4 separate regions of the Homo sapiens genome follow, and regions 1, 2 and 3 are each linked to region 4. The links come from fine-mapping of genetic effects on gene expression. A gene starts in region 4. Each other region holds a variant in brackets. All regions are shown on one strand. Distances are between the middles of the regions. Region 1 has its middle 94 kb from the start of LINC03056. Region 2 has its middle 70 kb from the start of AVPR1A. Region 3 has its middle 38 kb from the start of LINC03056. Region 4 holds the start of AVPR1A (arginine vasopressin receptor 1A).

The links. PIP is the estimated chance that this variant, and not a neighbour inherited with it, causes the effect.
Region 1: its variant is fine-mapped to the expression of AVPR1A in whole blood (INTERVAL, PIP above 0.99).
Region 2: its variant is fine-mapped to the expression of AVPR1A in whole blood (INTERVAL, PIP above 0.99). The same link has a PIP of 0.9 or more in blood mononuclear cells.
Region 3: its variant is fine-mapped to the expression of AVPR1A in whole blood (TOPMed, PIP above 0.99).

The regions. Positions count from the first base shown.
Region 1 is chr12:63,277,941-63,280,630 of GRCh38, reverse strand. No RefSeq gene overlaps it. Among named protein-coding and RNA genes, the nearest start is that of LINC03056, 94 kb to the left of the region's middle. The variant A/G (reference allele first, on the strand shown) is at 1,363.
Region 2 is chr12:63,219,791-63,222,480 of GRCh38, reverse strand. No RefSeq gene overlaps it. Among named protein-coding and RNA genes, the nearest start is that of AVPR1A, 70 kb to the right of the region's middle. The variant T/C (reference allele first, on the strand shown) is at 1,305.
Region 3 is chr12:63,410,382-63,413,071 of GRCh38, reverse strand. No RefSeq gene overlaps it. Among named protein-coding and RNA genes, the nearest start is that of LINC03056, 38 kb to the right of the region's middle. The variant C/T (reference allele first, on the strand shown) is at 1,452.
Region 4 is chr12:63,150,206-63,152,860 of GRCh38, reverse strand. AVPR1A (arginine vasopressin receptor 1A) reads left to right here and starts at 1,660. Exons shown (of 2, transcript NM_000706.5): 1 at 1,660-2,655. The coding sequence starts at 2,025.

The sequences.
Region 1 (2,690 bases), 130 kb before region 4:
ATTTACTTTCTTCTTTCTCTTCCCCACACTTCCCTGCCTCCTCCTTCTCTTTATCTTTCCCTTTCACTTCCTTATCCGTTCCCTCTCTCCCTCTCCTCCTCCTTTTCATCCTCTTCTTTTTCTCTTTCCCGTCTTCTTTTTCCCACAATCTCTCTTCCTTCCTTTGCCCTCCCCTTTTCCTGTTCTCTTCCACCGTTGTCTGGTAAATCTTTTTTCATCATTTTCTTTTCCTTTTCTTATTTTTACTTTTAAAAATGTTATTTATGTAATTTCTTGTAGAGATCGGGTTTTGTTATGTTGCCCAAGCTGTTCTCAAACTCCTGACCTCAAGCAATCCTCCCACCTCAGCCTCCCAAAGTGCTAGGATTATAGGTGTGAGCCACCACCATGCCTGGCCCATCATTTTACTTTCAACTTTCTCACGTCTTAATGTTTTAGATGTGTCTCTTTTAAATAATGTATAACTGGACTTTCTCAGTTTGACAATCTTTGCCTCTTAACTAGTTTGTACTGTCTATAATAATGGACATATTTGGATTTATCTCTATCTTTTTATTTTCCACTTTGGATTTTCTATTTCTCTTGATTTTTCCATTTTCATTGTTTTTTTTATTTGACTTTAGACTTTTGGATTGGGGATTTTTGTTTTTTCTCTTTTATTCATTGTACTTGAGATTTATTACACTTCTTTAACCTGAAAATTGATTTCTTTCATTAACTAAGGATATTTCTTAGCCATTATCTATTTTAATACTGCCTCTTTCCTATTTTCTTTATTTTCTTATTTTGGAACTCTTGCAAGATTTAAGTTGAACCTTATCACTCTGACTGCTCTTTTTGCTAGTCTCTGCTGTTTTCCATCTCATTCTCTCTCTGTCCTACAATTTATGATTTCTTCACTTCTATCTTCCAGTCCACTAGTACTCTCTTTAGCTGATCATTTCTCCTATTGAATTCATACACTTAATTTCTAATTTCAATTATGATTTTTTATTTTCAAAAATTCTATTTGTTTTTAATTTTAAAAATCTTTCTAGTCAGTTTTGATAGTCTCTTTTTCTTAGCATTACTTTCCACTTACTCTTATACTTATTTGAACATATTAAATATTTTATAATCTTTATCTGATAATTCTAAACTCTGCATTCTTGGAAGTCCTTAATCTGCAGTTTATTGTCTCAGCTGAACTTTGCTCAGGAAAGTTGGCCTCCTCAAGTGTTTAGTAAGTTCTTATTTTGAGCCTTTGTTCCTTAGAATTTCATGAGTGGAACTTATTTGAAGGTTGTGTTTAAAGCAAATTCTCTCAGTGACAGTTCATGTTTGCTTCCGCCAGGCACTTGAGAACATTATCAACTTAGGGCA[A/G]CTGTAACTCAAAGTTATGGCCTGCAGTTTGGGAAGCCACATAAGCAGTGTAGTTTTAGGCCCCAAGCCAGTTGAGAGAGGTGGTTAGGGATTTGAAGAGGAGATACTGTCTGCTTTCTGCTCAGAACCAATGAAGAGAGTGGCAAATTGTCTTCCTCTATTATGCATCATTTTAGTATAAATTGCACTGGAAAGGGTTTCTCTCACAACCGAGTTTATCATATTGCTGAAAAAATGAAATTTAAATCTTATTGATGCAAATTTGTAAAGGGATTCCTATTGCAAGTCAACATGCAACAAATAAACACACTTTTAAATTATTTAAAATAAATAGCAAACTCCAAAAGGTATACCCTTCTATAACTGTAACTTCATTATCTGGATTTGTGTTTACTTATAAAATTATTTTTCTTTTTAAATACCAACTCAATAATTATCTTAAATACACTAATGTGTCACAGTGAGATGTGACTTTTTTTCACTATAGCAATTTAGCTAAGGCACAAAATACTTTTTTTTATAGAATAGCATTTTATGTTAGAATTATCATAGTAACCAGATTCCAAAACACTTCCTGAAGAGCCTTGTCTCATTGCATGGAAGTCCTTGTATAGGCCCCTTTCACTGTCTCCAAATGAGGCTGACCTTTGCAACCAGTAGGATAATATGGGAATTATAATGTGAGGATTTCAAGGCTAGGTCATAACAAAACATTGGGGCTTCTTTCTTGATGTGGATCATTCACTCTGGGTTAAGCCAGTCATAATGTCATAAGGGAAGTTAAGCAACCCAGTGGAAAAGTCTCCTGTCAAGCCAGCACCTGTTTACCTGCCATGTAAATAAGTAGATCCTCCAGCTCAGCCAAGCCTTCAGATGTTTATGTCCCTGCCCAACATCCTCACTATACCCTTAAGAGAGACTCCTAGCTAGAACCACCAAGCAAATATTTTCCTGAATTCCTGGCCCACAGAAACCGTATGAGATAATATATGTTTATTGCTGCTGTAAGCCACTACATTCTGGAGTACTTCGTTATTGTAGCAAAAAAAAATAATTACTACACAAGTTAATTATGCTGCTTTTTCATTTAACTGACAATTTTATTATGCTTTTTTTGTTGTTTTGAACAACAAACTGGTGATCTCATCAGGACATCTAGTAGAATAACAAGATCCATATAGGGACTGAACTCAGCTTAGAAACTCTTGCTGCTATGCACAATGGCCAAACACTGGCAAGAGTCACCTATCTCTGGGTGGCAGGGATATGTCTGTGATATACTGATGACAGGCTCAAGCGATAACTACAGTCAACATCTGTACTGTTTA
Region 2 (2,690 bases), 70 kb before region 4:
GATCAAATATGCTGGTATCTGTCTAAGCTATTCTTCCAGAAATTTAGCCTTCTATATATATCACATTTTGGAAATTTCTATTTGATTTGCTTTGACTAATCTAAACTCATCCTTAAATTTCAATGCCAAAGCAATTCTGTAGCTTCCTGTTTGATTAGATAATCATTTTTCTTTTATTGTCTTAAGGAAAAATAAAATTTGTAGCTTTTAGTTGAATTCATACAGAGGATGAATTCAGATAAATTTTTCTTCTTCTGCCATGTAAATTTCCATTCTCTTAGAGAATACCAGATAGTAATTTATTGGGTACTCTTTACCATGCCTGCTGTCTTCTGTGATGCTGTTCTGACTTTTTACTTTCCATTAACATTCATTTTAGAAAGTACGTCAATCATCTGTGGAATATTCCCCTCAGAGGACTTGCTTCCTCTCCCTTCCTCCCTTCAACCCCAAGGTTTACTTGCAAAAATGACTTACAAACCAAGCATTGCCAATAACAACAAATAAATATATGTTTTTAATGAAACACCATATTTCTTTCTCAAACATACAGATTTTCCTCAGGGTCTGAAATTCCACAACTTAATTAAAATGTACATTGTTCCTTAATAGTTGAGCTCGACAATACCCACTAAGATGGAAAGTTTCTTAGTTCTGCTGAATCTACACCTCCAGGTCCAAGTTTATTCTGAAATCAGTTTTGCCTTAGATGAACAATTTTTAATTTTTAATTCACAGTGTCTCTAATCGTGACTGTTTATTTGTAACATACTTATACATTATTTATATCTTTATAATAATGTCATTTACTGACCATAAGCACCATATTAAATTCTTTACATGTATAATCTCACTGTTTTATTGTGTCTTAACTTCTCTTATCCCAGTGCGAAGTAGAGTACAATGTTTGCTGAATAAATTACTGCATGCATGAATGCGGAACTAAGACACAGAAGCTTGATTTTAGATCATTTATGTTTTTGAAGGTACAACTAGGAATGGGTTCTTTTTCTTCTAAAATTAATGTAACATTGATTTTTATCTTAATACTTATACTTGTTACACAACAGGCACTGTTCTATATTCTTTACATGTTTTATCTTGTTTGTTCCTCAGAGCAATCTTATTAGGTACATACCATTATCAAGATCCCTCTTGTGAGAATAAGGAAATTGAGGCAGATTTGGCTGTTAGGTTAAGCAGTTTGCTCACAGTTGTAACATTCACATGCAGTGAAATTAAGATTATGAGCCCATGTGGCCCAGCACCAGAGAACACTCTCAGCCAGAGTATATAACCCTGCC[T/C]CCTGGAGGCAACACAGTTGGGATTGGTACAAAAAACACAGTTCTCTGATGCCAACACTATAATTGCCAACCCCATTGAGAAAGGAAAGAAACATTTGCCCTGACATCTTCCCTCCAGGCAGGGCTGGCCATGCCACTAGTAGCAAAGAGGAGGGATGTGTTGAGTCATCTAGTAAGTCCCTGTGAAGAGTGGATCCTGGCCCATCTGAACATCTGACCAGAAACTAGTGGCAGCAGTTGTAGAACGTGGTATATGCATGTGCTTCTCTTTTTATGGAATCGGAATCAGGGTGCCCCAGAAAGAAAACGAGCCCAATTTTAAAGGGGTTAATTGGGTATCGTCTTGATTCTTTGTAAGATTGGTTAGGTATTCAGGAATCAGGCTGACCAGGCACAAGTACCTACCAACCTTTGTAAAATATTCTACACTCTACAATATCATTCACACCTGACATTTAAAATATAGCAGTGGAGAATAAACTTAAACTGCTATGTTATTATCAAGTTGAATAAGCCAGACTCATATTTAAGGTAGGCATCACATAATTTAGAATACAGCCAGGAGAGACAGCTTCCATATAAGGAGGTAACTGCAAGAGGAACCCAAGATCATAAAGGATTTTTTTTTTCTGTGACAGAGTCTTCCTCTGTTGCCCAGGCTGGAGGGCAATGGCATGATCTCGGCTCACTGCAACCTCCACCTCCTGGGTTCCAGTTGTTCTCCCATCTCAGCCTCTCGAGTATCTGGGACTACAGGCATGTGCCAACATGCCCAGCTAATTTTTGTATTTTTAGTAGAGACGGTGTTTCACCACGTTGGCCAGTCTGGCCTGGAACTCCTGACCTCAAGTGATCCACCCCGCCTAGGCCTCTCAAAATGCTGGGATTACAGATGTGAGCCACCACACCTGGCCCCATAAAGGATTGTTTTGTTTTCCCTTGGATACTTTAGCAATACATTTTCTTTGTGTAGTGAATTATCCAAAATAGAAACCCTTCAGAAACAGAGTGATACAAAGGAACAATTTCTCATATATGAGTTCTAAGTTAATTTGTCATTTGAAAGAATAACATATTCATATCTTTTGATCTAATAATTTCAACTTTAGGAGCTTTTAGGAATGTCATTTAAAGAAATCATCAGAGTTACAAAGATTTGTGTTTGGTGCTATTCATTGCAGCACTACTTGTAATAGAGAAAATTAAATATGAAAAATTTTAGTCATGTATACAAAGAAATATTCTATGGCTAGAATAAATCATGGTATCAAAGAATATTTAATGACAATAAAAATGCTTCTGATGTTACGCAAGGTTAAAAAATGACACATAGCATGATCTCAATTTTGTAAAAAATAAAATGTATATTCATAAAAAGGACTGGAA
Region 3 (2,690 bases), 260 kb before region 4:
AGGATATGGAGAAAAGGGAACCCTGGTACACTGCTAATGGGAATATAAATTAGTACAACCACTATGGAGAACTCTTTGGAGGTTCCTCAAAAATCTAAAAATAGAGCTGCTTTATGATCCAGCCATCCCACTGCAGGGTATATACACAAAAGAAAGGAAATCAGTGTAACTAAGGGATATCTGTACTCCTATGTTTGCTGCAGCCCTGTTCACAGTAGCTAAGATTTGGAACCAACCCAAGTGTTCATTAACAGGTGAATGGATAAAGAAAATGTGGTACATATACATACTGGAGTGCTATTTAGTCATAGAAAAGAATGAAATCCTGTCATTTGCAACAACTTGGAGTAGAACTGGAGCTCATTATGTTAAATGAAATAAGCCACACACAGAAATACAAATATTGCGTGTTCTCACTTATTTTTGGGGATCTAAAACTCAAAACAATTGAAGTCATAAAGATAGAAGAAAGATGGTTACCAGAGCCTGAAAAGGGTAGTGGAGGGGAAGGTGAGGGGAACATGGGTATAGTTAATGGGTACAAAAATATTTAGAAAAAATGAGTAAGACCTACTCTCTGATAGCACAGCAGTGTGACTATAATCAATAATAATTTTATTACATATTTAAAAATAACTAAAATAGTATAATTGGATGGTTTGTAACACAAAGGATAACTGCTTGAGGGGATGGATACTCCATTCTCCAGGATGTGATTATTACACATTGCATGCTTGTATCAAAACATCTCATGTACCCCTAAATATTTTTGACAAAGTATACCTACTATGTACCCACAAAAATTAAAAATAAAAAATTTTAAAAAGAGAGAACATGAATTACCAATATCAAGAATTAAAGAATGGTATTCACTGCAGGTCTGATATCAAAAATGAGTAAAGAAATATTACAAATGACTTTTCACCAGCATATTTATAATTTAGATGAAATGGACAAATTACTTGAAAACTGTAACTTACTGATTCAAAATGTAATAGAAAATTTAATAGTACTTTCCTATTAAGATTATAAATTAGATGGTCACCTTATACATAAATAAAAAGCTTGTGTGTGTGTGTGTGCATGTGCATGTGTATAAAAGCTATTATTCTGCAGTATAATAATCTCACTATGATACTGTCTTCCCTTAAAAATAAAATGTAAATCTCTGGATATTGGATATTGGGCTTAGTTAAATGAATATTATATAAGGCTAAATAAGTGAACAATGGGAAGGATTCCCATTACTTTCTGACAATAACTAAAAGTCTTATGTTGAAATATAAATATGAAACTGTTTCATCTGTTATATTCAATTTTTTTCAAGAGCTTTTGTTATTCTCTTAAAGTTTAATTCTCAGTAAACATGTAAGTTTAATTCCTCTTACCAGCATAAAAGCTGAACTCTGCCTATGCATGTATGAATGAGCAAAAAATAAAAAGCAAAATCA[C/T]GGAAACTCAGCTATAGCTGTAGAAGTCTATGTGAAGACAAGATGACACCAGTTAGTTTCTTTAAAAAAAAATTTCTTTAGTGTCTGTGTCAGTAAACACTGAACCCAGAAAAGAAATTGACTGGCAAGTGAAAACTTTCAAAATCTTACATTCGTTTTACTAGCTGGGTCTACCCCAACAGGCACTTATAATTGTTTAAGGAGAAGCCACAGAGATGAAAATAGACCAGAAAGTGTGAAGGATATAAAAATCATCTCAGAGTTCTGTTCTCCAAAATAGCCTGTTAGAAACTCATATCCCAAGTGTTGCAAGGAGTCTGACAACCATACAAGCCAATTTCACCTTGTTTTCTTGTAATACAACCAGTCAAAGAATGGTGAGTTCCCAGTTTTAACACTAAAAGGACAGCACACTTGTTGGTTCTTACCAGATCTTAGACTCCTCTTTGATTTAGATCTAAACATGGCCTTAGCTATGGCATGTCCTGAAGGCCATCACTTGCTGGGTGTTCTCAGAATAGAGTTTGGTTTTTGTTGTTTTTATTCTGGAGGTGACTAAATAAAAAATGTACAGAACAAAAAGACTCACTGGAGAGCCAAGCAAGGCTATTTATTAACAAACCTCTAAATATTTTGGCAGAATTTGTTTTTTCTGTTGTTGATTTCTGGCCCCCCAATATGGGGCTCAGAGAAAACTCAAGACCCCCCAAAGGAGTTGCCTGAACCTGGCACTAAGATACCAGGTTGGGCCCATTGAAGCCTTCCTGAATTTAAGCTTCTTCTGGGGTGGAACTGGTAAGTCCTCCTGAGCCCCCGAGTCCTCTGTTTACAGAACCTATTCACGCTGTAGGCTGACATAAAACATGTAAAACAGAAATAAATCATAATAAATATATCGAATTCTGTATTTGTGGAAAATTTGCTATAATTCCAGAATATTGCTGAATATCACAGTGATTAGAATAATAGTAGTTTAGGAAATTGAGGGTATCAAGTAAAAAGGAATAAAAATAGATTTGTTCAGCTAAAATGTTGAAGAATGTAAGCCAGGTTTCACTGGAAAAGAGGAAGAGTAGGTGGAGTTCAGCAGCTGAGGATAAGTGGGTAAGGCTTAGCAGGACGCTGGCCTTTCACTAACTTAAGTCCTTAAGGGCACTGTTTGAGCCCAAGCTGAGTTTCTTCTCTTTTCTCTCCACTATAGGACCTTTAAAAAAGTTGAACTATTGTCTACTTTTTCCT
Region 4 (2,655 bases):
TAATTTGTGACTTAAAAGAAAGTGAATTCTCTGAGTCAGTGACTATTACCTAATTGCTTGAAGGATTTTTTCCAGACAGGTGGTCTGGAAACCTTTTACCTATTACCTTCCATCCCTGAACCATTTCAATCTTCTGCCTCCTGGATATCTTGGAGAAAATGAACCAACACAACACAGCTTTCAGTTTTTAGAGCATTTCCCCCATACAGAACATTGTCTTACTTGATCTTCCCGATGACCTCAACAACAGGAAAGGCAGGTCCTTTCATTTCCATTTATAAGACGCACAGACCCAGGATTATCTAGCCACAGGAAGCAGGACTCCAGATTTCAAGTCCAGCATCTCAACGTGACAACCTTGGTAACTCTGCATGAACGGACTGGATAGTAAAGTGGAATTATTACTGAGAACTGCAATGAATAAAATCTTTTGCATTTTTTGCCTACGTTTCACAGAGGGTGATATTTTTCTGAGGCAATTAAATTTATACCACGGCCACAATACTGAAACGTTCTGACCAACAAAGTCATGCTCCTGCATCTACACAGCAGATAACTGCAGAAACGGCTTCCTTTCTTCCTTGTAAAATTGCCTGAAAACAGCTCCCCCTTGCTGTCCGTCGAGGCATATCTTCACCAACGTTAAAACAGAGCTGAGGGAGATCGCATTTCTGCCTCCCTCCCGCCCTGCAGAGGGGCTCCAGCTGTTCAGAGTAACGGATTACTAGGTAGGTGGTTGTTTCCCCTCCTTCCCAGGGCCTCTTTCCTCTCTTTGAGATTGCCTCTTTCTTACTCCTGAGCACAGGAGCCGGGCGGGTTTTCTGTCCCTTGCCCTGGACAGCACTGCCTGGATGGCCGCTGTCCGGCAGCTGCTCTTTGTCCACCCAAAAAGATGTCCCCACGACTCAGTAGTAACCAGACGGTCCCCACGGACCACTGCGGCCAAATTTCCGCCATCCCCGCTGTGGGAATCAGGCTTTTCCCGCAGAAAACCCCAGGAATCTAGAGAAAACTCCTTAAGTCCCTAGTCTCCATAGAGAAAACCAGGAGACACTCCCCCCAAACCCCGCTGTGAATACAGGCACAGCAGCCACTGGGGCTGCAAAGTGATGAGTGCGTTCTTCCCGTCGCAAACATAGGGTAATAAATAGCATGCATCAAAGACGTTACTAGGAAGAGATAGCTCTTTAAGTCACGAGCGGGGAGAAATGTTTGCCCCGGGAAAATTTGCCTGGGGAATAAAATTTGCCAGACTGCTGCACGGGTGAGCTCGGTGAGAAGGAAGAAACCCGGACTGGAGGAGGTGAGGTCGAGAGCCAGGTTCAGGTGCAGGAGCTAGATGCGTGGACGCCGGTGCGTGGACTGGAGGTTTCCAGGTACCGCGCTTAGCGTGCCTGTTGAAGTCAAATGCATGGTTAAGGAGGCTAGCGAGGAAGGCTAGTGAGGGAAGCTTGTGGAAACGGCTACGAGCCCAGAAAAGGCATGACTCGTCCAGTTGTCCAAGTTTTTGGAAGGGAAAAGCGGGAAAGCGCCACGATCCCACCTACTGTGAGGAGGAATCTGCGAGTCTCCCAGCTCCACCCCCTCCACAGTGATGCAGAGGACAAACACCGACGTAGGGAGAGGAAAAAATAAAACTCCAGGGAGCGGGGAGTAGGCAACCAGCAGTCTTCCGGCAATAGGGCGGGAGGGAGCGCGTCCCAAGGAAACAAGCACCGCATAAATACTTGAGTTGGGAACCCAGTGCTTCCGGAAGCTCGGAGCTCACCTTCCCGACCTCGCCGAAGTTGAAAAAAGGCAGAGCAGGGAGAGGGGCCAGCTCACCCTGCTGAGAGCTGCTCAGTGGGCAGGCGGGACGCTGCTCCGGGAGACGCCCACTGGAGGGATCGCAGAGCCCGGCAAGCTGCGAGCGCGCCAAAGACCCTGCGCTTCGGACGAGGAGCCCAAGTCCTCCGAGACGGGGAGGGAGCGGCCCGCGAGGGCTGGAGCTCCGAAGAGGGCCGAGTAGGAGCTGCATGGACAGCATGCGTCTCTCCGCCGGTCCCGACGCGGGGCCCTCGGGCAACTCCAGCCCATGGTGGCCTCTGGCCACCGGCGCTGGCAACACAAGCCGGGAGGCCGAAGCCCTCGGGGAGGGCAACGGCCCACCGAGGGACGTGCGCAACGAGGAGCTGGCCAAACTGGAGATCGCCGTGCTGGCGGTGACTTTCGCGGTGGCCGTGCTGGGCAACAGCAGCGTACTGCTGGCTCTGCACCGGACGCCGCGCAAGACGTCCCGCATGCACCTCTTCATCCGACACCTCAGCCTGGCCGACCTGGCCGTGGCATTCTTCCAGGTGCTGCCGCAAATGTGCTGGGACATCACCTACCGCTTCCGCGGCCCCGACTGGCTGTGCCGCGTGGTGAAGCACCTGCAGGTGTTCGGCATGTTTGCGTCGGCCTACATGCTGGTAGTCATGACAGCCGACCGCTACATCGCGGTGTGCCACCCGCTCAAGACTCTGCAACAGCCCGCGCGCCGCTCGCGCCTCATGATCGCGGCCGCCTGGGTGCTGAGCTTCGTGCTGAGCACGCCGCAGTACTTCGTCTTCTCCATGATCGAGGTGAACAATGTCACCAAGGCCCGCGACTGCTGGGCCACCTTCATCCAGCCCT